3 linked regions of the Homo sapiens genome follow. The protein of the gene in region 1 interacts with the protein of each later gene in a pairwise test. Each region holds a gene or a part of one and is shown in the gene's direction. Other genes may lie near its edges.

Evidence for each region.
Region 2: the proteins of TRAPPC12 (region 1) and TRAPPC6B interact in a two-hybrid assay, tested with the Homo sapiens proteins (one study listed by BioGRID).
Region 3: the proteins of TRAPPC12 (region 1) and TRAPPC10 interact in a two-hybrid assay, tested with the Homo sapiens proteins (one study listed by BioGRID).

What each region holds. Positions count from the first base shown.
Region 1 is NC_000002.12:3,417,584-3,424,693, forward strand, and holds part of TRAPPC12 (trafficking protein particle complex subunit 12), read left to right. Parts: intron 1-4,116; exon of another isoform or gene 4,117-4,203; intron 4,204-4,297; coding exon 4,298-4,411; intron 4,412-6,941; coding exon 6,942-7,080; intron 7,081-7,110. UniProt on the Homo sapiens protein: Component of the TRAPP complex, which is involved in endoplasmic reticulum to Golgi apparatus trafficking at a very early stage.
Region 2 is NC_000014.9:39,153,248-39,160,357, reverse strand, and holds part of TRAPPC6B (trafficking protein particle complex subunit 6B), read left to right. Parts: intron 1-807; coding exon 808-875; intron 876-1,955; coding exon 1,956-2,073; intron 2,074-2,441; exon of another isoform or gene 2,442-3,236; intron 3,237-6,063; coding exon 6,064-6,147; intron 6,148-7,110. UniProt on the Homo sapiens protein: Component of a transport protein particle (TRAPP) complex that may function in specific stages of inter-organelle traffic.
Region 3 is NC_000021.9:44,015,290-44,022,399, forward strand, and holds part of TRAPPC10 (trafficking protein particle complex subunit 10), read left to right. Parts: intron 1-7,110. UniProt on the Homo sapiens protein: Specific subunit of the TRAPP (transport protein particle) II complex, a highly conserved vesicle tethering complex that functions in late Golgi trafficking as a membrane tether.

The sequences.
Region 1 (7,110 bases):
CCTTGTGTCCCCCCGAGCCTAGCACAGTGCCTGGTTCACAGCAGGCAGTCAGTAAATGGCCACTGAGTGAATGAATGAGGAAATGCAGATTCCGCCAACATTTACTCATCGAACTTCTTTGTTCTTCTTTCCACGAGAATTAAAACCTTAAGTTTCTCATTTTTAAAAATGGTCATTGGCCGGGCGTGATGGCTCACGCCTGTAATCTCAGCACTTTGGGAGGCCGAGGCAGGCAGATCACCGGAGGTCAGGAGCTCGAGACCAGCCTGGCCAACATGGCGAAACCCCATCTCTACTAAAAATACAAACTTTAGCCGGGCGTGGTGGCGGGCGCCTGTAGTCCCAGCTACTCAGGAGGTTGAGGCAAGAGAATCACTTGAACCCAGGAGGCGGAGATTGCAGCGAGTCGAGATCGTGCCACCGCACTCCAGCCTGGGCAATAGAGACTCTGTCTCAAAAAAAAAAAAAAAAAAAAACATTGTCATAGTGGCAGGCACAGTGGCTAATGCCTGTAATCCCATAATCCCAGCACTCTGGGAGGCTGAGGTGAGTAGATCACTTCAGCCCAGAAGTTCAAGACAAGCCTGGGCAACATGGGAAAACCATATCTCTACAAATACTCGCCTGCTTCTGCCACTCTGCACCATCAATATAAATAATAACTAATTCACAATAATCAGTCATGAAAGAATAAAATGGAAAACATGCCAAATGCAGGCCCCTGCTTTGTTATCACTGCATGCCATACACATAAAGTTCTCTGTCACGTGACTACAGGAGCATCTCCATTCCTGTGCCTCGTCCTCAGGTATCAGACGCAAGCCACTCGCGGGCTGAAGTCAGCCCACAGTCCTCCTTGAAGTCAACAGAAATGAACTACTGAGCCACGAGGGGCCTAGACCTGGGATCCGCCAGCGTTTTCTGTAAAAGACCATAGAATAAACATTGTAGACTTCCTGGCCATACAGTATCTGTCCAGCTCCTCAGCTCTGCTGTGAATGCCCAGCTCTTCCATGGTAGCACAGAACCTTATCACCGTGCAGGTGCACACGAGGCTGGGCTCTGGGTTCCTGTGAGCTCTGCCTACCAACTCAGGCAGTAGGGGGTGGGGGGCGTCCAAAGGATGTGCACAGATTGCCAGCACCAGGCCCAGCTGCTGGAACATCCTCATAGCTTTACTCACATCTACACGGACGCCTTAAGTTCACCCCATCAGTGCAGGGAGACAGGGGCCTTCAAATGTGATGACACGACACTGCTGTGGCCTGTGCTCTTGGAAGCCTGCAAAGGCCAGCACACCCGACCCTCCTCTGCCTCACCTCCTGTGCCACCCCATCCTCACCTGCTTCCCCAGCCTCTCCTCATCCACACCTGCTCGGCCCCTCCTCCACCGCCTCCCTCCGGCCCGCTGGTCCTTACTGCATCCCCTCGGGCCCTGCACCCTGCCCTCTGCTCCCTGTGCCCCCCATGCCTGCTCTCGCCTTGTTTTGCACACATTCTGTCCTCTTCTAGGGTCTCCGCCCCCTCCCCTTCCCTGATTAACTCCTGCCTGTCCTCACTGTAGGTCATGTCCTGAGGGAAGAGGGCCCCAGCCTTTCTAGCAGGAAAGGCCAGAGCCTTAGGCCTAGGGAACCAGGAAGGGAGCAGTTATTAGTTGCCCCTGGATACAGAATCTGCCTAGATGCATATATAGAACTGGTTCAGACTTGGCACAATCTCTTTCCCTCTCACTCTTTCACATTTGCAATTCAAAGAGAATATACAGAGCCATTTGTATTATATAAAGTGATTATTGCATTGAATTTAGACTAGAGAAGGCATTTGGAGATCGTTTTAGTAAATTATCGTAACCAATCTAAAAATACTTCTGAACTGTCAACCAGAACACAGAAATCCTGTATTACTTGCTGTAGTCTGGACAGTTTAGGGGAACGTGGCACCGATCTCATCTTCACCGTCGATCAGTGGTTCTCTGACTTGGTCCAGTGGCCGCACACCAGCTAGTGAAGAAAACCACAGACTCCAACTGCACTGTGTACGCTCTGGTGTCCTCATTTCCAAAAAAAAAAAAAAAAAATCTACAAGATAGAGTTTAAGAAATCTCATTTGAGTTGCCCTGCTAATATTTGCAGCTCGCTGGTGGGTGCCGTGGAGGCCAGTACTCACCGTCAGGCTGTGGCAGGTACAGTGAAAGGAAAAACTCCATGAGAGAACGGTGGAAAGTTCACCTGAGAGTGAAACGCATGCCAGTTAGAGTGGCTGAAAAATAGCATGGACAACACCAAGTGCCACGGGACGTGCAGCCGTGGGACCCCTCACTGCTAGGGAAGGCAAGATGGCACGGCCACTTAGGAAGACAGCTTGGCGGCCTCCTACAACACTAAACATACTCTTAGGTACAACCCAGCAATCCAGTTACTGCATTACGCTCCTGGATATTTCACCCAGTTATGCCGAATGCTTATATCCACACAAGAATCTGCCCAAAGATGTTGATACCAGCTTTATCCATAGTTGCCAAAAACTAGAGGCAACCAAGGGGTCCTTCGATAGGTCAGTGGGTAAACACACTGGTAATGTGGACAGTAGGATGTTCAGCATTTAAAAAAAAAACAACTATCAACCCCTCAGAAGACCTGGAGGAAACTGAGATGCCTGCAGCCCAGGGACGGCTGGTGGCTTGCAGCAGGTCACACGGCTACTCAGGCGTAGAGCCTGGCCTGTCTGAAGCTCAAGGCCCAGCACCCGTTCCTTTCCTTACACATAGAGTTTCACTAGGCACGCACACGCTGACTCTGGATTGATGAAGAAACAGTTTGGGAATTTTTAACAGCATCGTTCACATTTTTAATGCCTGCCTCCTGCCTGGCACTGTGCTCAGCACTTTCATGTATCTTCTTTAATTGTCACATCTGTGAGGTGGGACAGATGACCTCAGCTCTGTAAACTCAGCCATTGCTGAGCCTGCAGTGTGAGTGTGAGGCCACATGTCAGAACCCCGGAAGACACAAGCCCCACTCTCCTGCCTTCAACACAGCCCCCCACACCGCCGCTGTGGCTGGAATTGGAGCAGGTCGTTAGCTCCTGCCTGAGGAAGCCCAAATAAAGGACTGCAGAACAACTGTAGTGCAAAGCTGAGACTCATTGCCCTCCTAGGCGTTTCATGAGCAGGTCCTGAGTTCTCTGTGTCCCGGCGTGGAGTGCAGGAGGCGTGGAAAGGGAGTAGTGCGTGTGTGAGTTAGTATACAGAAGAAGTGTGTGGCAGGCTCTACCACACGTTTTTAAAATATGTAAACTCCTAAACTTCTTGTCAGAGAAGCGCTTGGCATGCACACAAAATCATTTAGCTAATTCTTGAGAAACATATTGTTTAATTGTCTGTCTCCCTTGCTAGATCATACCACTAATGAGTGCTCGTTCACTAACCTCCCCGCCAGCCTTGCAGTCTCTGTCAGGCAGGAGGTACTTAAAGCATGTTTATTGACTGGCTGCAGAAATGAGGACATCTACCGTATTCAAAGATAGTGCCCGTTACATTGAGAAAAGACAGAGTGAGCATCCACTTTTAGCTTCTTAAAAGGTTTAAACATTCTGATCTTATTTTCCCATTCATTTGCCTAATGGCTGTCCTTTCTGTATTGCACAAGGGCAAAGATAAACACAAGAGTCTGTACGAATCAGCCAGTGTGTCAGTACCAGCCAGCCTTTCCATGTTGAAGCCGTAACGTTAAGTGATGTGAAAGTATACTGTGCATTGCCACACGGGCCTGGAACATGTTGTGTTCACCCAGTTCATTGATTTTTTCATATTGATAAATTAAAATTATGAACATATAAAGCCAGTTATTTTAGAGTCATATGCAAATCTTACAGATACAAATAAATATGTCCAACACATAGCATAAAATTTCCTTATTGATTTTAAATTGACAGAAATCTTAAGATAATCTTGCTAAAAAGGAAACCAGTCATATAGATTGAGAGATGTGCGGAGCTTTCCAATAAAAAGCCTCTTCCCGATGTTCTATCGGTTGTTGAATTGTAATGTTTTTATGATTTGATCGGCTTGAACTGTACCTCACGCTTGGCTCTCTTATTGCCTAATTACACGTGCAGCGTTGACAAATGGCATGCCCCTCCGTGCCGTCAGCACACTGACGTTGTCACCATTACTAACGGCTGGCTGGCGCTGCTTCCAGCAAGGTGAGCAGCTGTGGCCAGTGGCTATGCGTTTGGGTCATGGATTCCACCATGCCTTGCATGTGTGTTTGGTCACATGTTCTGCCGTGTCTTGCAGAGCTGCAGAAACTGGAGGGCAGCAGTGGACCTGTGCGGACGTCTCCTCACAGCCCACGGCCAGGGCTACGGCAAGAGCGGGCTGCTCACCAGCCACACGACAGATTCACTGCAGGTGAGAACACCTTTCAGGTGCTGGAGTTTAACCTGGCTTATCACAGTCTGGGGACATGGACAGGACCATGGCCTTTCATGCCAATAACAAAAAGTATGTTTTCATATCCTGCTTCTTTCTCTCCTAATTATATTGTATATACTATACTGGGGCACTGGAATTCTCACTTCGGCCCGTCAGGATGCCTGTGCGCCCCAGAAGCACGCTCACAAGTGCCCACACTCAGTCTCATGGTGGAACCGGCATGGCTTTGGGTCAGCAGGTGGGTTCGCCTCACGACTGGCAGTAGCAACTGGCCTGTGCGGGGCTCTGGGGCGTGTCTGGGCCCGGTAGGAAACAGTGACAGGAGCAGTTGGTTCTGTCCACCCCAAGGACGGAGGGTCCATGTGCCATTTGCTCCTCGTGGTATATCACTTGCTCTGAAATTTAAAAAAAAAGAAAAAAGAAAAGGGAATGCACAAAATAGACTTGTGAACAAAAGGAAACTCATCTGAGAAGAAGGAACAGCTGCAAACGTTGATACATTCTTACCTTTCCCTGGGGAGTTTTTTAACTGTTCTTCTAGCTTACATGGGAATCCCCCGGGACTAAACAGATCACCAGATCCTTCAGAACTGTGATGAGCTTTTGAAAGGAGCAGCTCTGGGGAGCCCTGACAGCTTAGCTATTTCCAGCAGGCTCCTTCTCCTTCTTTCTCTTCCCCCAAGAGCCGACAAGAAGAGCCGCTCTAGCTTTAAATGTACTTTCCCCCATCACCTCTCCATCCATTGGTTTGCCAAATCTTAGGCTGTTTTCCTATCATTTCTCTCCAACCCACCACCACCCACAGTTCGAGCTCTCATTGCAGTGTTGCTTTGGCCTCTTTTATGAACTTAGTTCAAGTTTCTTTATTCACATTCATTCCATAAACTACCTCCAAAAAAGCACACTTTTGATCATCTCACTTTCCTGCTGGAAAACTGTGCCCGGCGCAGTGGCGCATTGACTGTAGTCCCAGCTACTGGGGAGACTGAGGCAGGAAGATCACTTGGGCCTGGGGCTTCTGGGCCGTAGTGCACTTTGTTGATCAGGTGTTGGCACTAGCTCAACACCAATATGGTGACCTCCCTAGAGCCAGGAACCACCAGGCTGCCTAAAGAGGGTGAACCACCCTCCTTTCCAACTAGGTCTGAAACGGAGCTAGTCAAGAGCTGGATAGTTTCCCATTGGCTACCATGTGAAATTTCATCTTCTCGTGTTGTATGCAAACCCTCAGACCATGACAGGCTATGTGTACACTATGGAATGGTTAAATCAAGCTAAATCGCATGCATTGCCTCGCATGCCTTTGTGTGTGTGTGTGTGTGTGTGTGTGTGTGTAATGAGAACACTGAAAATCTGTCTTAGCAATTTTTAGTATACATTGTAACTGTGTCACCACGTCTACAATAGATCTCTTGAGCTTATTCCTTGCGTCACTGGATTTTGTTTCCTTTGACTAACATCTCTCAAACCTCCCCTGCCCGGCCCTCCTCCCCACCCCCAGCCCCGGCACCCGCCATCTACTCTGCTTCTGTGAGTTCAGTGTTTTCAGATTCCATGTGTAAGTGAGGTCACACGGTGTTTGTCTTTCTGTGCCTGGCTTGTTTGTCTAACGTCATGTCCCCTAGGCTCATCCACAGCACAAACGACGGGATTTCCTCCATGAAAGCTGAGTGGTATTCCACTGTGCGTCATGCCACGTTCCTTTATCCGTTCATCCTTCAGCGGACACTTAGTGAAATTCATTCTTCTCATCAGTAAAGTCAGATCCAATTAGGTCATTTCTAAGGTACCCTTTTAATCCTAAGTCTCTGGCTCTGCAGCTGTCTAATGCAAATTCCCACCATTTTCCTGAATGTACCCCTGAGAGCACACTGTGCTCTCTCGTATGTTGTGTTTTGTCCACTCTGTACCTTTGTCCTTACGTTCCCTGAACCAGCAGACCCTTCCTTAGCCTGTGGCCCCTTGAAATTCTGCAGCCCTGAGAGCTGCCCTCAAACACAACCCATCCCTGCGCTTCCTCTCCTTCCTGCTCCCGTTCCCGCCGTCATTCCCCCGCCCTCCACTAGGTGGCGCATTCCTTTGGTGCCTTTTCATTTTCATGACACCTAGCACAGTGCTTTGCACACAGACCTGCTCAGTAAGCACTGTTTACTTATTGAGTAAACAATTATGTAAAATCATTCACATTGTTATTAAGCTCAATAGTAATTTCTTCTTAGAGACAGGGTCTCGCTATGTTGCCCAGGCTGGACTCAGACTCCTGGGCTCAAGCAATCTTCCCACCTCAGCCTCCTGAGTAGCTGGAACTGCAGGCATGAGGCATCATGCCCAGCTTCAAGAGTAATTTTTTAAATACGATTGTGTAAATATGCAAAGATAGAAAGTTAGGTTAGCCCTTATTTTAATATATGAGAAATTAACCTCTAACACCAACTCATAAGGAATAGCAAATTCTGAACTGGATATATGTAGATAACCTATTGTTTCCATTGTATTTTGTTTTTAGCTCTGGTTTGTCAGGCTGGCACTACTAGTGAAGTTGGGCCTTTTCCAGAATGCTGAGATGGAATTTGAACCCTTCGGAAATCTTGATCAGCCAGATCTTTATTACGAGTACTACCCGCACGTGTACCCTGGGCGCAGGGGTAAGGCCATGGTATTTAATATTTGTACAT
Region 2 (7,110 bases), on another chromosome or scaffold:
GATCCTCCTGCTTTGGCCTCCTAAAGTGCTGGGATTACAGGCATGAGCCACCGTGTCTTGAGGGGTTTGTTTCTATTAAAAGACTTGGTGTCAGGGAGGAGCACAAAGCTTTAACCCATTGAACCTCTGACAGTTAAGATGGTGTTGGGTTAGGTTACATCTGGTTACTATCCTGGGAAAATCACTTCTATAGAGATGGCCTTCCAAGTGGTTTTAAAATGTATCTTTCTGTCTGGGCGCGGTGGCTCACGCCTGTAATCCCTGCACTTTGGGAGGCCAAGGCAGGTGGATTGCTTGAGGTCAGGAGTTTGAGACCAGCATGGCCAACATTTTGTATTTTTGTATTTTCTCTACTAAAAATACAAAAATTAACCAGGCATGGTGGTGGGTGCTTATAATTCCAGCTACTTAGGAACCTGAGGCAGGAGAATCACTTGAACCCTGTAGATGGAGGTTGCAGTGAGCCGAGATGGCCCCACTGTACTGCAGCCTGGATGACAGAGCGAGACTCCATCTCAAAATAAATTAAAAAAATGTATCCTTCTATTGAAGTTTTTAGGTTAATCATGTATATGTTGACTAAATTATGAATTAACTTGTTTATCAAAAAAAAAGTAAAAAGTAAAGTAAGTAAAAGTAAAGTAAAATAAATAAAATCAACCTTATAATTCACTTTTTCTTAAACTGTTTCAGGGAAAAAAGTATAAATGTTTACATTAATATTTTTAACCAATCTTGTAAAACAATTTCTGAATACTAACATCCTAGCATTCTAAAAGTATTTAAAACTATTGTTTTTTAAAATAGGAAAACGGACGATGTATTACTAAGCTGGAAAACATGGGGTTTCGAGTGGGACAAGGATTGATAGAAAGGTGAGCAGGTTGGATTTGAAAATTTTCTTGCAGGTAGGTTATAAACAAAGGTGATCTATTTCAAAAGATTGCATAAAACTTGGGATATTTTAATTTTAATTCCTGAATGTTATTCTCTTTACTTCAAAAATTAAAATTTCTTTTTAGATCCAATGCCATTTAACTCATTTATTCAAATTTTATTTTAATGTTTAAAGAAAATATATATTTTATATATTTTAGACTTTCTTCCTGAAGCTATTTTAGACTTTATTCCTGAAGCTATTGAAGCAACTATCTAAAATCTTACTGCATTTTCAACTTAAGATCTGCTAGGTTCTTTAACCTGCATAGAATTTTTAAGTACATAGGTTTGAAATAACTATAGTCTATGTTTATGCGTGTAATTATCTTTGAACTTATAAATCAGTTCTTTTTAGTATTTCTTTCTCACTACCTGAATAGTTAAACTCGGAGTATATTTTATATAACAATGTCATGATAATGCTCAGCTCTTTGTTCTTTTGTGGTTTTTTGATGTGCTAGAATGCATTGCACCTGAAATTTTGGCTATAATGTTAGACTAATTTGAGGCCTCATAATTTATATAACATAATGTGAATCCATTGAGATAGGATCATGTTACCTGGTGCTTATGACTTTATTAGTGTTAATAAATGTTCAGCCAGGTGTGGTGGCTCATGCCTGTAATCCCAGCACTTTGTGAGGCCAAGGTGGGAGAATCTCTTGAGCTCAGGAGTTTGAGACCAGCCAGGGTAACAAAGTGGAACCCTGTCTCTACAAAGATATACAGATTAGCTGAGCATGGTGACATGTGCCTGTGGTCTCAGCTGCTAGGGAGGCTGAGGTGGGAGGATAGCTTGAGCCTGGGAGGGAGGTAGACGTTGCAATGAGCCGAGATTATGCTATTGCACTCTAACCTGGGCGACAGAGCCAGAATCTGTCTCAAAAAAAAAATTAAAATTAAAAAACCCAATAAATGTTCAGTGCTGTTCTGGCATTTGGAAATTAGTTAATAATTAGTCCCTCTTGCTTTTTTTGGAGGAGAAATACTGTATTACTTCTAGTTGATCTTTTTAGGTTTACAAAAGATACTGCAAGGTTCAAGGATGAGTTAGATATCATGAAGTTCATTTGTAAAGATTTTTGGACTACGGTATTCAAGAAACAAATCGACAATCTAAGGACAAATCATCAGGTAATTAAATTAATTAAGGCCTATATTTTAAAGTCCTTTAACTTGATATAAATATCGTATTTTAGTGACTTATTTAAAACCTAAAATAATTTCTGGTTAACTTTGGAATATGTTTATGTTATTAATGAGTTATTAGTTTTTTTCTTCTAATAGTGTGAACTGAGTAAAGACAAAGGGACAGTTATCAGTAATGATAGCTGTTCCTTTCACCCAATTATATGCTATGTTAAGTTTTTTAAAGTAGCATAAGTCAGGATGAGAATAGCTTTTACTATTTGGTTCCTTAGTTACTGTTAATTAGTGGTAATAATATGCAGAACCACAAATATATCACCTTTATGTCTTTAGAGTCATTTCTTTTTTTTGAAGAAGAAGAATTTGGATTATTTTAATTATTTTTATATACAGAAAACTCAACAGTGTATGTTTAACCCAGTTTGGTGTCAAGTTCTTTAGCCTTTGCCTTTTCCTGCTTGACAATTCAAGCCACAGACTTGAGACCCAGGACATTGCCTCCCCAGTGACAGTGGATTTCGTTTTGTCTGTCGTAATTGGTTCTGATAGCTTCCACCAGCTGAACCTAAGCTCCATTGTCCTCTGAGTTAATCTGTGTAAAGGCGACAGTGGTGCGGGTCTTCTTGTGGATTAGACATCCCAGTCTTGCCTTCCCCTTGATAATGCGGTAAGGGACCCCCATTTTATGACACAAGGCAGGCAGGAAGACAGCCACCTCGATGGGATCCACATAGTGTGCAGTCACCACCAGCTGAGCCTTCTTGTTCTCCTCCAAGGTGGAGATGGTGTTAACTCCTGCTCGGAGGACAAGTGGTCTCTTAGTGGGGACATCCCCTTTGCCTGCAGCTTTCTTTTCAGCCCGGGCCAATAGCCTCTGCTTATTTTCTTGCTTTGTCTTTGGTCTGTACTTGTGGGCCAGCTTAAGCAGCTAAGTAGCTATTTGGCGGTGCAGGGCCTGGGTGAACTGGTTAATTGTAGGAGGCACTTTCAGCTGCTTACAGAGGATGGCTTTGTGCCACTGCAACCTGATATAGCGGGGCCATTTCACAAAGTGAGTGAGGTCCATATTGGGTGGATGTCCTGTCCAATGCCAGAATTCTTAGGCCTTTTCTCAAACAGGGGATTCACCACTTTCTTTCTTTCTTTTTTTTTTTTTTTTTTTTGAGATGGAGTCTTGCTGTGTTGCCCAGGCTAGAGTGCAATGGTGCGATCTCGGCTCACCACAACCTCCGCCTCCTGGGTTCAAGCCATTCTGCCTCAGGCTCCCAGGTAGCTGGGACTACAGGCATGTGCCACCACTCCGGCTAATTTTTGTATTTTTAGTAGAGGTGGGGTTTCACCATGCTGGCCAGGCTGGTCTCGAACTCCTGACCTCAAGTGATCCGCTTGTCTCGGCCTCCCAATGTGCTGGGAGTACAGACGTGAGCCACCACGCCCAACCAGGATTCACCACTTTCTTGGCCTCCTGTTTCTTCATGACACCAAGGGCCAGAGCCACCTCCTTCCTCTTGGCCTTTCCTTTTGGCATCTTGGGTGGCAGGAAGAGATTCTTTATAGTCATTTCTAAAGTCTAATTTATAGAGCATTTTACTCTTAAATAACTCCTGGATTATTACTGCTGTCATATTTTCTACTCTTAAAAGATTTTCTTACTACAAAATTAATAGATTACATAGAAAACTATGTATTTATTAAAATTTTAAAAGGGAGACAGAGTCTCGCTTTGTTGCCCAGACTAGTCTTGAGCTCCTGGACTCAAGTAATTCTTTGGCCTCAGCCTCTTGCATAGCTGGGATTATAGGCATGCACCACCACTCCCAGCTTCATTAGATTTTATTTTATGAACTTCAAGGAAATACTTAGAGTAGATTTGGAATTTTGATTAAGTAAAAAATTAAATGTATCTGGTACTCTCAATAGGATAATTCATTTATTTATTTATTTTTAATTAGAGACAGTGTCTCACTATGTTTTCCAGACTGGTCTCAAACTCTTGGGCTCAATGGATCCTCCCGCCTTGGCCTCCCAGAGTTCTGGGATTACAGGTGTGAGCCACTGTGCCTGGCCTGGAATTCATTTTGTACCAACTTTAGCTTGGAATTACTGGAAATGCTAATAGGAAGAAATGACTATGATTTTTTTACTCTCTAGACATGATTTACTAATATATATCAGCTGGCTGGACATGGTGGCTCATGCTTAGAATTGCAGCATTTTGGGAGGCTGAGGCAGAAGGATTGCTTGAGCTCAGGAGTTGGAGACCAGCCTGAGCAACATACTTAGAACCTATTTCTACAAAAAACTTGAAAAAAATTTCACCAGGCATATTGGTATGTGCCTGAGGTTTCAGCTACATGGGAGGAGTTCAAGGATACAGTGAAATACTACACTTTTGCCTGGATAACAGCAAAATTCTGTCTCTTAAAAAAATAAAGCTGGGCGCGGTGGCTCACCCCTGTAATCCCAGCACTTTGGGAGGCCGAGGTGGGCAGATCACCTGAGGTCAGGAGTTCGAGACCAGCCTGGCCAACGTGGTGAAACCCTGTCTCTACTAAAAATACAAAAATTAGCCAGGCATATTGGCGCACGCTTATAGTCCCAGCCACTCAGGAGGCTGAGGAAGGAGAATTGCTTGAACCCGGGAGGCAGAGGTTGCAGTGAGCCTAGATCACACCACTGCACTCCAGCCTGGGCGACAGAGCAAGACTCTGTCTCAAATAAACAAATAAATCCGGGTGCGGTGGCTCACGCCTATAATCCCAGCACTTCAGGAGGCCAAGGCGGGTGGATCACCTGAGGTTGGGAGTTCAAGACCAGCCCTGCCAACATGGAGAAACCCCGTCTCTACTAAAAATACAAAATTAGCTGGGCGTAGTGGCGCATGCCTGTAATCCCAGCTACTTGGGAGGCTGAGGCAGGAGAATCACTTGAACCCAGGAGGCGGAGGTTGTGGTGAGCTGAGATCGAGCCATTGCACTCCAGCCTGGGCAACAAGAGTGAAACTCTGTCTCAAAAAAATAAATAAATAAAAATAAAAATTAGGTCGGGTGTGGTGATCATACATGTAATTTCAGCACTTTGGGAGGCTGAGGCAGGAGGATTACTTGAGCCCTGGAGTTCCAGACCAGCCTAGGCAACATAGGGAGACCCCCTTTCTACAAAAAATTAATAAAACTAGCCGGGTGTGGTGGCATGTGTCTGTGGTCCCAGCTACTCGGAAGGCTGAGGCAAGAGAATTGCTAAACACCCAGGTGTTTGAGGGTGCAGTGAGCTGTGATTGCACCACCACACTCCAGCCTAGACAACAGAGTGAGAGCTCATGTCTAAATAAATAACTATACAAACAAACAGCTTATTTCATGTGGACATGTATTAATGATTCCATCGTACTAGACTATGAGTTTTTAAGGATAGGGACTATGTCTCAGACAGTGTTTTTATCTTCAGTGTATAAAACCGTTCGGTATACATTAGTGTTGTGAAAATACTGAACTCGCAACTCTTCAGCTTGAACATTGCAAAACTCCTTCATTTAAACAAAATTTGACCAGGCTGGGCACGTGGGCTTATGCCTGTAATCCCAGCACTTCGGGAGGTCAAGGTGGGCAGATTGCTTGAGCCCAGGAGTTTGAGACCAGCCTGGGCAACATGGCGAAACCCCATCTGTACAAGAAATATAAAAATTAGCAGGGCATGGTGATGCACGCCTGTAGTCCCAGCTACTTGGGAGCCTGCGGTGGGAGGATTGATTGAGTCTGGGAGTTGGAGGCTGCAGTGAGGCGTAATTGTGCCACTGCATTCTACCCTGGGCGACAGAGGAGACCCCGTCTCAAAGAACAGAAAAAGAAAACTTGGCCAATGGGAAGGAGACTTTTAATAACTTTAAAAAACACTTAAATTGTTTCATAAGAATAAAATAATTTTAAGGACTGCTAGGTACATTGACTTTGGATTTTTTTTCTATTTTTGGAACAGGGCATCTATGTACTTCAGGACAACAAATTTCGCCTGCTTACTCAGATGTCTGCAGGAAAACAGTATTTAGAACATGCATCTAAGGTATTTAATGGAATAGAAGTTGGGGTTTTTGTTAATAGTAGGACTACAGGGAAAAGTACAGTGCTAATCATAACAAACTATTGAATTAAAAATATGTTTTAAGGTGTTCTTTTTTGTTTAAAGAGTTTTCTATGAAATGAGAGACATGTTACAATAACACTAAACTGTAGCTAAATAGTCATAGAGTGACCAATTAAAGAAACACTGGCCGGGCGCTATGGCTCACGCCTGTAATCCCAGCACTTTGGGAGGCCAAGGCAGGTGGATTACCTGAGGTCAAGAGTTCAAGACCAGCTTGGCCAGCATGGGGAAACCCTTTCTCTACTAAAAATATGAAAAATAGCTGGACGTTCTGGCGAGCGCCTGCAATCCCAGCTATTCGGGAGGCTGAGGCAGGAGAATCACTTGAACCCGGGAGGCAGAAGTTGCAGTGAGCTGAGATCGTGCTATCATTGCACTCCAGCCTGGGGTATAAGAGCAAAACTCCATCTCAAAAAAAAAAAAAAAGAAAAAAAAGAAACACTATAACTAAATGACAGTGAAATGTAGATGTATGGTAGATCACTTTTTTTTTTTTTTTAAGACAAGGTCTTGCTCTGTCATCTAGGCTGGAGTGTAGTGGTACAATCATGGCCTATCTTGACCTTGACCCCCCCGGGCTCAAGTGATCCTCCCACTTCAGTCACCCAAGGAGGTAGGACTGCAGGTGTGGGCCACCATGCCTGGCTAATTTTTAAAAAAATTTTTTAGAGATGGGATCCCACGATGTTGCCCAGGCTCGTCTTGAACTCCTGGGCTCAAGTGATCACCTCACCTCGGCCTCCCAGTGTGTTGGGATTACAGGTGTGAGCCACTGCATCCGGCCTGATTGCCTATTTTCTATATTTTTGGGGTATCCAGGCTCTAATTACATTTTTATGGTTAATGTGTATATTTTCTCTCTTTTTTTTTTTTTTCGGACAG
Region 3 (7,110 bases), on another chromosome or scaffold:
GTAACTGGTTCAGGTGAATTTAAAAACTGTGTATATGTAGGGATAGAAGAATGAAAAGTTCCCAAAGATTAAGGGTAATTAGAATAGATTATTACTTTAAAACCTAGCTGATTATTTCACTTCATTTTATTATTATTATTTTTTTAGAGATGGGGTCTCGCTCTGTCACCTAGGCTAGAGTGCAGTGGCATGGTCATAGCCGACTGCAGCCTTGCTGGGCTCAAGTGACCCCTCCCTTAGCCTGCCAAGTAGCCAGCACTACAGGTATGACCCACCTCACCTGGCCTGAATTATTTTAATAATATTTTGAAGCTCTCCAAATTTTTTTTTTTTTTTTCTGTCTGAGACAGAGTCTTGTTCTCTTGCCCAGGCTGGAGTGCAGTGGCGCGATCTCGGCTCACTGCAACTTCTGCCTCCCGGGTTCAGTCGATTCTCCTGCCTCAGCCTCCCAAGTAGCTGGGATTACAGGCGTACACCACCATGCCCACCTAATTTTTGTATTTTAATAGAGACACAGTTTCACCTTGTTGGCCAGGCAGGTCTAGAACTCCTGACCTCAGGTGACCTGCCCGCCTCGGCCTCCCAAAGTGCTGGGATTACAGGCGTGAGCCCCCGCACCTGGCCCTAAATGTTTTAATAGACTTTAGCCCATAATTAAACCTCCTGCCTAACGGGCTCCTGTGAAGAGGGACTAGCACAGTAGGGGCCTTCTTAAACTCAGAACTAGTTACAGCTTGTAAATACTGAAGAGTGTATGTGAAATGTGCAGGGATGGGAGCTGAACAGTTAGTGGAACTAATGCTTTGACGGGGTTGGGTGATGAATGACCGAATCATAGCAATAGGAAAACTTGTAGTATATTTTATTAATCATGAAAAATGCCTGGCGTAACTGAAACAAATCCAGCAGATCCATTTGGTCTAAATTTAAATTTTAGCGTAGATTTGTTTTTCAGCCACAGGGTCAGTTTTCTGTTTTGAAATAGACTTGGGTTTCTGTTCCAAGGGTGTATTAGGAAAGACACGTTCCTTTTCCAGCCATCTCATTCAGTTAGTGACAAAGTTAATGTAATTCCAGTGATTTGTGGCTTTTCTTTGTTGACTGTCCTCATACCTACAATAGCACATACCTGTTATTAGCTTGGAATTGAATTTCTCTGAACAATAATAGTACCCTCCCTCTAGGTGATCTGTTCTCATTAGTCACATCTGTTGCCTGTTTCATTTTTCTGAGTTTCTGTATTTGGGGTTCCAGGTCTGATATTAGAAACTTTTAAAGGGGAAAACAGGCAACAGAAATGAGCAGATATGTAGAGCTTCGTGTCTGGTTGGACTTTGGGATTTTCCCCTGTAGGTTAAAATTTTTTTAATTTTAATTTTTATTTTTTGAGACGGAGTCTTGCTTTGTTGCCCAGGCTGGAGTGCAGTGGTGTGATCTTGGCTAACTGCAAGCTCCGCCTCCCGGGTTCACGCCATTCTCCTGCCTCAGCCTTCCGAGTAGCTGGGACTACAGGCGCCCGCCACCACGCCTGGCTAATTTTTTGTATTTTTAGTAGAGACGGGGTTTCACCGTGTCAGCCAGGATGGTCTTGATCTGACCTTGTGATCTGCCCGCCTCAGCCTCCCAAAGTGCTGGGATTATAGGCATGAGCCACCGCGCCCAGCCAGGTTAAAGTTTTTAAATTTGCACATTGAAATTTTCTACTAAACCTGAAAATGTGGTGCTTGCGATTTAACCATCACTAGTTTTACTACCAGAAAAGTCACTTGAAATGTCTGTTTAAATGGGTGAATATGTTATAAATGCAGATTTTGTTTCATATTGAATTCTCAAGGCAATGTTGAACCAAAGATTGAAAAGTAGGAGAAACATTCTTCTTAGGAAATCGCAGTTGTTGCAGAGAGTATGTATTTGGAGGCGGGGACTAAAGGCACCAACAAATGTGCTTAACTTACTATGTCATTTCTACCCGAGCATGGTTACAAACCATTCCATCTTGTACGCATGACCTCGGTTCTTACATAATTTCACAGACCCTTAGCTGTGAAACGGGTACAGTACCAACCCCATCGGGTTGAGAAGGGTGTGTAAAGCACTCAGGAGAGTGTCAGGATTATAGTCAGTGTGCAAAAAAAGTTACTAAGGAGAGGTTCCTCAATTTTCTCTGTTCACAATGCTTTTAGTGTCTCGGTAATTTTTTTCATGGCATCTCTAGGCTAAAAGGAATACTTAAAAATTCCATTTATTAAGTAGTTAGATTCCAGTAATTTATTAAATATTATGTCCTAACAAGAGCTGTTTGAAAAAAAATATATATAAGTTGGAAGAAAAAAATATTTTCATCATTCTTCCTAATTGCAGCAGTGTGCTACGTGGGGGGCAGGCCCTGCGGGAGCTCTGTGGCACCTCTCACCTGAAGGTCGGATTGGACGCTGCTTCTCCCTTTGGTTTTTTTTTTTTCTTCTTCTTTTTGGTGGTACTTGCTTTTTATCAGAGCAGCCACCCTGTTTTGCGACGATAATGATGTCATCGAAAGAAGTGGAGCCCTGATCTGATGTTGACACTGTGAATACCTTGTGTGGGGTTCCTACACCACAAGCATTGCTGTTTCCCTCATAAATTTAAAATATCTCTTGGTGCCTCTCTGCGTAGTGTGTGGGAAGCCTAGGTACACAGTTTGGGAACCCGTGCTGTTAGTGTTATTAGCCCAACTCCAGGGTGGATTTGAACTGATACTTTAGAATTGAAAAGCTTCCTTTCTTTTCAGCTCACACACCTACTTTACTACAAGATGTGTTTCTGAAGAGTTTCTAGTAAGTTCTTTATGCAAATGAAATGGAAAGGTCTGATTTTCTTTTTTTTTTTCTTTTTTTCTTAAGTGCTGATGAATCTCTGAAATAATCAAGTATGATACAGCTTGGGCAACATAGGGAATTCCTATCTCTACAAAAATGAAAATAAAAAAGTTAGCCAGGTGTGGTGGTGTGCGCTTGTACTCCCAGCTACTTGGGAGGCCGAGGCGGGAGGATCACTTGGACCTGGGACGTCAAGGCTGCAGTGATCTGTGATTGTACCTCACACTGCAACCTGGGTGACAGAGCAAGACCTGGTCTCAGAAAAAAAAATAAAGGCTGGGCGCAGTGACTCATGGCCATAATCCCAGCACTTTGGGAGGCCAAGGTGGGTGGATCATGAGGTCAAGAGATTGAGACCACCCTGGCCAACATGGTGAAACCCCGTCTCTACTAAAAATACAAAAATTAGCTGGGCGTGGTGGCTCGCGTCTGTAGTCCCAGCTACTCGGGAGGTTGAGGCAGGAGAATTGCTTGAATCTGGGAGGCGGAGGTTGCAGTGAGCCGAGATCATGCCACTGCACTCCAGCCTGGCGTGAGACTCCGTCTCAAAAAAAAAAAAAAAAAAGTATGTCGGGCATAACACATGAACCAGTCTTTCCTTAGAGAGTTTTTGCTGTGTGCTTCCACCAGAGGCCTGCCAACTGACAGTGTGATTGTGTGGCTCACTCTGGCTGAGTTGGTTATCTTTTAATGGAAATACAAATAACTGACTTAAGGATTTTTTTGTCGTAGGAAAGTTTGTTGCCAGTTGACAGAGTGTCTTCCCTGGAGTCGCATGCCTTAGTGTGTAAGTGTGTGGTCTCCAAAGGTATTGCACACTGATCTCCAAGTACTGACCCTCCCACCCCCGTGCTCCACTCTAGACCTGGTGGCTTTAGATCTGGAGTTAGAGACCAGCAACGGCAGAAGATTACAGGGTCTTTTTTTTTTAAGACATGGTCTCACTGTGTCGCCCAGACTGGAGTGCAGTGGCATGATCTCGGCTCACTGCAGCCTTGACCTCCTGGGGTCAGGTGATTCTCCCACCTCAATCTCCCGAGTAGCTGCTTGTGTGCCACCATGCCCAGTTAATTTTTTGTATTTTCAGTAGAGATGGGGTTTCGCCATGTTGCCCAGGCACGTTTTGAACTCCTGGATTCAAGCAATCCGCCCTCTTTGGCCTCCCAAAGTGCTGGGATTACAGGCATAAGCCACTGTGCCCAGACAGCTGCAGGGTCTTAAACAGTCAAAACATTCCCACCTCAGTGCCTGCCTCTGTGGTGGGTTGCCTCAGAGCTTCCTGTGGCTTCCTGTCCTGTGTCTCACCTTCTTTCTTCCTCAAATCTTTCCTCTATCTGCTCTTAATGTCAAATATAGTCACAGTATTTTGGCCTTAGAGAATATTTGTTTTTAAATTAAAAATTGATAACCTTGGAGTCATTTATGACTTCTTTTTTCTCTCACAACTGACATTATCTTTGAAATATATCTAGAATCCAGCTATATATAGGGCCTGCCTGGATAATCTGGGATAATCACATCTTGAGCTCCTGAACTTAATTAAGTCTACAAAGACCCCTTTCCCAAATAAGGTGACATTCACAGGTTTTGAGGGTTAGGATGTTGTGGGGCACCATGCCACCTGCCGCACCACTGTCTGTGTTAGCTACCAAGCGCGCAGTGGCCGGCATTCATCAAGCGTCTTTGGTTTTAGACAGCTGCGTCTGTCTTTGGAGGTTTGTCCTTCGTGTACTCCTGACCGAGGGAATGTTATCTTGACATTTGGGCTTCTGGGTTCTAGATGTGGTTACAAGGTGGGGTGATCCCTTCTTAGGAAAAGTCCAGCCTCTTCTGTGCTCTCTCCCTTATGTGGCTTTTTGGACATTTGTTACATGGTGTTTAATTTCTGAATATTATTTTAGGCCCCTGTTTGCAATTTTTTTTTTTTAACAGTGACCAGGGACCATTCCATTGTATGTTTGGACATTTTTCTTTTCTTTTCTTTTTTTTTTTTTGAGACAGAGTCTCGCTCTATTGCCCAGGCTGGAGTGCAGTGGCGTGATCTCGGCTTACTGCAAGCTCCGACTCCGCCTCCTGGGTTCACGCTATTCTCCTGCCTCAGCCTCCCGAGTAGCTGGGACTACAGGCGCCCACCACCACACCTGGCTAATTTTTTTGTATTTTTAGTAAGGATGGAGTTCACCGTGTTAGCCAGGATGGTCTCGATCTCCTGACCTTGTGATCTGCCCGCCTCGGCCTCTCAAAGTGCTGGATTACAGGCATGAGCCACCGCGCCTGGCCCATTTTTCTTATTTTTAACTGAGATCTGTTAGCAGTTTGAAGCGATTGTATACATTTCAGAGTTAGCTGGGCATGGTGGTGCGTGCTTCTAGTCCTAGCTACTTGGGAGACAGGCCAGAGGATCGCTTGAGCCCAGGAATTTGAGGCTGCGGTGAGCCATGTTTGTGCCACTTCACTCCAGTCTGGGCGACAGAGTGAGACCCTGTCTCAAAAAACAAAAAACAAAAAAAAACAATTTCAGGGTTGAAATTTTTAGCAGAGCCTTGGAACTGACAACCACCTGTTTGGATAGTAACTTTAACTCAATCTGTAGCTTGCCATTTGTGGGCACTGTCAGTTCACCTAGACCAGTCAGCAAGCTCTAAACATCCAGGTTAATGAGAAGGGCCGTCAGAAGTCATTTTGAAGTTGAGGAGCTGAGGGCTGGTTTTGCTGTGACTGGCCATGATCAGTGTAACTGTTTAGTAGCACAGCTCGGACCAATATTAGCATGTCTGATGACTCCTGCTTTACCAAGTACTTAGGGAAGGCAGACACCATCTGTTCACATGGAAGCAGGGAGTTTGTCCCTAAAATTATGCTTCTGAGAAAGCCTTTGCCATATAATTAAATAAAAATGTCACTTTAGCATTCTAAGAATTGAGTAAGTAAGCTATACACTAGAAATTTTTAGTATAGTCTTATTCCAAAATTAAATTCCTATTCTGAGAACTTGATACCCAGCACTGTCTTTGCTTCTCCTGTAGTCTGTTCTGTCCTTTGGGGATCCTGGGTTGTCTAGTGTGGAGTATGGAGGAGTTGGGCTGTTTTCATCAGTGAGCAAACATTTACGGAGGACCTATTACATGCCAGTTACTGCTGAAGGGGCTTGGGTTATGTCAGAGAGCAAAGATCCCAACCCTTTGAGAGTTTACATTCTGTCAAGAAGAGATAGACAATAGACAAATAATGTTAGGTGACAAGTGCTATGGAAAAAAGAAAAAGAGAAGGATAAGGGAAATGGAAGAACTGTAACATTTCACATATTTTATTATAAAAGTGCAATATGTATCAAAGTAGACAGAATATTATAAAGAGACCCTACAAACCTTTCACCCAACTACAGCAATTAGGTGAACTGCCCAATCTTGCTTCTCTATACCCCTCATTCTCCCCAGTCTTATATTATTTTGAAGCAAATCTCAGACATATAATTTATCCACGAATGGATGTTATGGACTGAACATTTGTGTCCCTCCCTACACACCGAAGCCCTGACTCCCAGTGTGCTAAGAATAGGAGATGGGCCTTTGAGAAGTACCAGGGCTAGATGAGGTCAGGAGGGTGGGCCCTTTATTATTGGATTAGATGAGGAAGAGTGAGAGGACACCTCCCCCTTGAAACGAGGAAAGGCCACCTGAGGATAACAGCAAGGAAGTGGCTGTCTGCAGTCTGTAACACAGGCCTCACCAGAAACCTAATCTACTGACACCTTGATCTCGGGCTTCTTGACCTACAGAGCTATGAGAAAATACATTGCGATTTTTTTTTTCTTTCTTAGGGTCTTTTCAGAGAGAAAACAAAAAACTGTTTTCTAAGCCACCCAGTCTATGGCATTTTTTTTTCTTTTTAAAAATTTCTTTCTTTTTTTTTTTCTTTCATGGTATTTTTTAATTACACCTAAAACGTTTCTTTCTTTCTTTTGTTTTTGTTTTTGTTTTTGAGATGGAGTTTCGCTCTTGTTGCCCAAGCTGGAGTGCAGTGGCACAATCTCAGCTCACTGCAACCTCCGCCTCTCGGGTTCAAGCAACTCTTCTGCCTCAGCTTCCCAAGTAGCTGGGATTACAGGCACATGGCACCATGCCTGGCTAAATTTTTTTTTTTTTTTTTTTTTTTTGAGATGGAATTTCACTCTTGTTGCCCATGCTGGAGTGCAGTGGTGCGATCTTGGCTCACTGCAACCTCCGCCTCCCAGGTTCAAGCGATTCTCCTGCCT